2 separate regions of the Homo sapiens genome follow, and region 2 is linked to region 1. Evidence: fine-mapped QTL for protein levels in blood plasma. A gene starts in region 1. The other region holds a variant in brackets. All regions are shown on one strand. Distances are from middle to middle.

Region 1 (2,895 bases):
TAGATCAGAGATGGAGACCCCGAAAGAGACCCAGAAAGGGATCGGTGTGGGCTGGGGGAAGAGACACCCCGGGGGTCACACAGTGGTCACAGGCATCAGAGCTGGGCTGAGGAAAAGGACAAACTGAACCTGTTCCAAAGCTGGGGGCTCAGTACCGTCTGCCCAGGCACATGCAGCAGCAGTGGGGCTGCAGGCAGGCCCCCAGGGTAGGAAGCAAGGCGGGTGGGAGGCAGGGCCTGGCCTCTGGGCAGTTTTGTAGCCGGGCCCCTCAGGCCCTCACAATGTGCCCAAGGCTGCTGGGCCCATCTTCCAGGGGTGATCACTGAGGCTCAGGCTGGCTGAGGTGGCCGGACCCCAACCCCTGGCCCTGCCCTGTGGGCAGCAGTGCCAGGTCTGGCACTCAGAGGTTAGGCCGGGCGCAGGGAGGGTGCGGGCTCCGCAGCGAGCGCGCCGGGCGGCCTCTAGGAGCCGGGTCAGCGAGTCTGGGCTCTGAGCGAGCGGCGCCGGCCCGGCCCCCTCTCCGGCGGGCGGCCGAGACCCCGCCCCGGAGGCGGAGGCGGAGTCAGGGGAGGGGGCCGGGGGCCGGCTGGTCCCGCCTCTCGCGCCTCCGCCCCGCCCCGCGCGCACACAGCCAGGGGCCGCCCGGGCTCTCGACGCGCCGACGGCCGGGCGGACGGACGGACGGACGCCGAGCGCAGTGCCCCGCGGTGAGTGCACGCGGCCCCTCCCGCCCGGACTCATCCCCGTCGGTCCGCGCCTCGCAGCTCAGGACTCGGGGGCGCTCGGACGCACCGACGGCTCGGCGGACCCTCGGACGCGCCTCGCGGGCTGCCCGCGCCTCCACCCGCGCCGCCGGTCCGACCGGGTCTCGCTCTCCCGGTCCCAGCGCGGGGACGGCCCGCGAGCGCCGCGACCCAGTGTACAGATGCGGGCACAGAGGCCGGCGCGGGGTGGGGGCCAGGGGTCCGCGGGCGGGTTCCCCCACCCCAGGTCCGCAGCTTCCTCCGCTCTGGGTTTCACTTCTCCCCCCTGGGCCGGCTCCCACCAGTCATCCCCTCTGGTCCCACTGCCCACCCCCACCCCGACCGCAGGACCTTGCCGCCCCTCCAGTCCAGAGGGCCGGGTCAACCCCCTCGGGGAAAGAAGACTAGAGTCCCTGGTCTAACACTACCCCCTCCATCACCCCCAAGTCACACTCACCGCCACACACGCACTCACACAAGCAGAAGTTTCTGCACGCTCTGCATTGGCGCGCCCACCCTGCCTGTCACCACATCCTCCCTCTCCCAGCCCCATGCTCACCCCGCCAGCTCCCCCAGGCCAGAATCTCTCACACTCATCTCACGTCCCCTTAGCACACAATGCTCCACACACACATGCCTTGCACATTGGCACCCCTCCGAGGCATGCCTCTAGCAGACAGTTGTGTCTCTGATAAACACATGTGCCCTTACTGCCCTCTGACACGCACACACGTCCGCCACACAGGGGTAGCTATCACATGCATATCTCCATCATATGTATCACACATGTGTCTCTCACATGCGTGTGCTCCTCAAATACCTGGAATCACAAACACTGGGAGTGCCACACACTGTGAGTCTCACATACGAGTCACAGACCCCCACGACTTCACAGTCCCAGCCCCCCTGGCACTCCATGGGCAGTCCTCCCCTGTCCTAGGGGGTGGGGAGCCGATTTTGGAGGAGGGAGGTGGTTCCTCCTGACAGAGGCTGCTTACCATGGGACCTGGGTGGCTGTGGGGAGCATGGGGGTGGCTCAGCCTCAGGCTGGGCCTGACTCCTCACCTCCGTGCATCCTCTCTCCCTTCCCCTGCTCCAGTCTCCGAAATAGGGGTGCCCTCCCTCCCTTTTTTGCTGCCACAAGGAGTTGCCCATATCAGCTTTGCAGTGATCACTTGGGCCAGTCCCAAGCAGGCCTGAGCCAGCAGGCGTCCCCTGACAGGCCAAAAAGAGAAAAAGGGAAGTCAAACAGGATGGTTTGGGTGCTTGTGTCTACCCTGATGCCCCTGAGATGCTGGTCCGGGCCCTCCCAGAGGGAGCCCTGATGAATTGGGTGGCAGCTGAGAAGTGTTCCCTCAGCCTGGCATGGATTGGGAGCTGGTGTGTGTTTGTGGCTGATAGGGGCTCTGGGCCTTAACTTCCCCATATGCCAAATGGGGTGAAGACTCCCCAGCAGGAGGAAGAGAGGGAGGGGGAGCTACTCCCCTGGGGTGCACCCTTGACTTCCCGCCCTCCCCTTCTGCAGCTGAGCTGTGTGATGGGGGTGAGCAGGGGATGAAGTCAAAGAATCTTATTCTGGAGGCACAAACCTGCCAGCCCCGGCTGTGGCTGGCCCTGCATGTTTTGTTTGGCTCTCACCATGTTATTATTATTTTAAAAAATTAATTAGCTGCCTGCATTTACAAATTGGCAGTTTTCACGTAAAAGTCCGGATTTCCGTCTTCTCTTGAAAAGTCACAAGGTCTGGTAGTTCAGGATCTGCATCTCCTGGCTGGTGCTGCCCACCCCCAACCCAGGGGATGGGGCAGGGGCGCTGTTTGGTCCCCGTCCCCACCTGGCCCTCTCATGCCTTCTCAGCTCCTGCCTGGCCTGCGTGGCCTTTGTGCGGCTGTGACTGCTGCATGCATTGGGCTGATTTTGCTCCATTGCCCGCCTCAAGCATAGGCCCAGGCTGGTCCTCCATGCATGGCTGGGGAAGCCCTGGGCGGGCCTCCTACCCTTCGAGGCCTTAGTCGTTGAAGCAATGAGTGGTGCCCAGGGCCCTGGGCCACAGGGCATCTTTGTGATGGTGGCAGACACTTCCTGCTAGGCTGTGGGGGACGGTGGTATGGGGACCCCGTGAAGCAAGAGCTCATGCCAGAGAGCATTCTCC
Region 2 (2,895 bases), 21 kb after region 1:
AGACCGTGGGGAGGGAGTGGAGACAGATTGCGGGGAGAATGGACATGACTGGGGGAGTTGGTGGGGTGTTAGGGACAGCAAGGCATCAGGATGCATTTGCCAGTGCTACTGGGGAGGGGGACAGGAGCGTCCCCTGGGGCTAAGCCTGCAGTCCCGAGGGTCTCAGAGGTGTGTTCCTGAGTCCTAGGGTCTGCGGGCTGGGGCTGTAGGGGGCGTCTTGTTCTTGCCTAGCATTTCCCCACTGACTGTATTTTCTGGCCAGCAGCTGTGGTGCGTGGCTGGGGACTGAGTCAAGGATCTGGGGGGAGGGATTGGTCGGGTGTGTGCGTGGGACTGTGCGTGTGAGACCGCCCAGGGTGTGTACTGGCACGTGGGCATGCTGTGGGTGAGACAGCGTGTGTAACTGCATAGAGGATTATGGGGCATATTGCCTGACGTGCCCTGGTGAGTGTGACCGAGTGGGTGTGGGGCTGTGCATGTGTGTGTGTGGGCACGAGGGCTCACTCAGAGGACCTGCCTCAGAATGCAGGTGAGGATGGAGGATGGAGTGGCCCAGCAAACACGTGTGGGGCTGTCAGCGACTCCAGGTCAACACCTGTGGCGCCCAGCGACTAGACACTCACCTGTGTGTGATCTGACCCATGTGTGGCGGAGCCTGTGTGTGTGTGTGAGGCAGTGCTTAGTGTGCTCCTGGGGATGAGCGCATGCGTGTGAGGTGGCTGAGGCTGGGCCCCTGCCCGCGTGCGTGCCGGTGTGCACCGTGTCTGTGTGTGCACACCCAGTACTGACAGGCTTCCTTTCTGATTCCCCCAGGGTCTTACAGGAGAGGGGACCGTCCTGGGCTGGCC[T/C]GGACCATGGTGCTGCTCTGGGAGCCTGCAGGAGCCTGGCTTGCTCTGGGCCTGGCCCTGGCCCTGGGCCCCAGCGTGGCCGCAGCTGCCCCTCGGCAGGACTGCACGGGCGTGGAGTGCCCGCCGCTGGAGAACTGCATTGAGGAGGCGCTGGAGCCGGGTGCCTGCTGTGCCACGTGTGTGCAGCAGGGCTGCGCCTGCGAGGGCTACCAGTACTATGACTGCCTACAGGGTGGCTTCGTGCGCGGCCGCGTGCCCGCCGGTCAGTCCTATTTTGTGGACTTCGGGAGCACTGAGTGCTCCTGCCCACCAGGCGGCGGCAAGATCAGCTGCCAGTTCATGCTGTGCCCGGAGCTGCCGCCCAACTGCATCGAGGCTGTAGTGGTGGCTGACAGCTGCCCACAGTGCGGCCAGGTGGGCTGCGTCCACGCGGGCCACAAGTACGCCGCTGGCCACACTGTTCACCTGCCGCCCTGCCGGGCCTGCCACTGCCCTGACGCCGGTGGAGAGCTCATCTGCTACCAGCTCCCCGGTTGCCACGGGAACTTCTCAGATGCCGAGGAGGGTGACCCCGAGCGACACTACGAAGACCCCTACAGCTATGACCAGGAGGTGGCCGAGGTGGAAGCAGCAACAGCCCTGGGGGGTGAGGTCCAGGCGGGTGCAGTCCAGGCAGGCGCAGGGGGCCCCCCAGCTGCTCTGGGAGGTGGGAGTCAGCCACTGTCCACCATCCAGGCACCCCCCTGGCCAGCTGTCCTCCCCAGGCCCACAGCGGCTGCTGCCCTGGGTCCCCCAGCCCCAGTGCAGGCCAAAGCTAGGAGAGTGACCGAGGACAGTGAGGAGGAAGAAGAGGAGGAGGAGGAGAGAGAGGAAATGGCTGTCACTGAGCAGCTGGCAGCAGGTGGCCACAGGGGGCTGGATGGGCTGCCCACTACAGCCCCAGCTGGACCCAGTCTTCCTATCCAGGAGGAGAGGGCAGAAGCTGGGGCAAGGGCAGAAGCTGGGGCAAGGCCTGAAGAGAACCTCATCCTGGATGCCCAAGCCACGTCCCGCAGCACTGGGCCGGAGGGCGTGACGCATGCACCGAGCCTGGGCAAGGCTGCTCTCGTCCCAACTCAGGCCGTGCCTGGCTCTCCCAGGGACCCAGTCAAGCCCAGCCCCCACAACATCCTGTCCACATCACTGCCTGATGCAGCCTGGATCCCACCCACCCGAGAAGTGCCCAGGAAGCCGCAAGTTCTGCCCCATTCCCACGTGGAGGAGGACACAGACCCCAACTCTGTCCATTCTATCCCCAGAAGTAGCCCTGAAGGTAAGACCCTGTCCTGGTTCCTTCAGGGCACTTTGTGTGGGAAGGGCAGCCTTGGGCTCTGGCCGCTGCCCCAGGTCTCTGCCTGGGGCTGGGGATGCTGGACTGTGGGGCCAGGCCTAGGGTGGCCACCCCAGGCCCTTGGTTTGGGCAGGAGGCTGTGAGAGTGCATCTTCTCCCAGGCCCAGCTCTTGGGATGGGATGGGTGGGTGGGAGTGGGGTTCCTGTTGTGGGAGGTGCTGGGCCCCCTGGTAGGGCTGCGGTAGTGGTCAAGGGTCCAGAAGGTGCACATCTTCAGAGCTGGGGGCCCTGAGGAGGGTTCCTGCCTCAGCCCGGTAGGCCCCCACGTGTCCTGGCAGGAAATGCGAAGGGCGGTCTCTTCTCAGCTGCCCCGGTGGCTGGCCTGTGGCCTAGGAGCCTAGCATGGCCACCTCTGCCAATTTTTCAACAAATGTCAGCCAGAAAGCTGAATTTTATGTGACATCTTCCCATTTCTAAGTGTCTGCAGCAAATCCTAATCTCACAAGCATGTGTTGTAGAAAGAAGTGAACTCGTGGACAGAGGCGAGGTGGGTGGGCCATTTGAGCAGGGGCGCTGGCCATGCTGGGCCAGTGGAGGTGGTGGGGCCACACCAGCTGTACCCTCACTCCATGGAGGCCCCTCTCCGAGCTGGTCAGGCAGCTTCCCATCAGTCCTTCCAGCAGCACCGAGTGCTTACTACTATGTACGCTGTTTCAC

Alleles and levels. Positions count from the first base shown, and alleles are read on the strand shown. Strength reflects both the effect of a copy and how common the allele is.
In carriers of allele C in region 2, the plasma level of the protein whose gene starts at base 624 in region 1 tends to be lower than with T alone (weak association).

What was found. PIP is the chance, under the fine-mapping model, that this variant and not a neighbour inherited with it causes the effect. Protein levels are from antibody-based Olink assays in UK Biobank. Linkage for the fine-mapping came from a reference panel and not from the study's own genotypes, which makes the PIPs less certain.
Region 2: its variant is fine-mapped to the plasma level of the FBLN2 protein (UK Biobank, PIP above 0.99).

What each region holds. Positions count from the first base shown.
Region 1 is chr3:13,548,502-13,551,396 of GRCh38, forward strand. It overlaps FBLN2 (fibulin 2), which reads left to right and starts at 624. Exons shown (of 18, transcript NM_001004019.2): 1 at 624-707. RefSeq lists enhancers at 1,987-2,595, 2,596-2,895.
Region 2 is chr3:13,569,502-13,572,396 of GRCh38, forward strand. FBLN2 (fibulin 2) reads left to right here. Exons shown (of 18, transcript NM_001004019.2): 2 at 814-2,160. The coding sequence starts at 855. Among named protein-coding and RNA genes, the nearest start is that of FBLN2, 22 kb to the left of the region's middle. RefSeq lists enhancers at 1-363, 1,968-2,684. The variant T/C (reference allele first, on the strand shown) is at 849.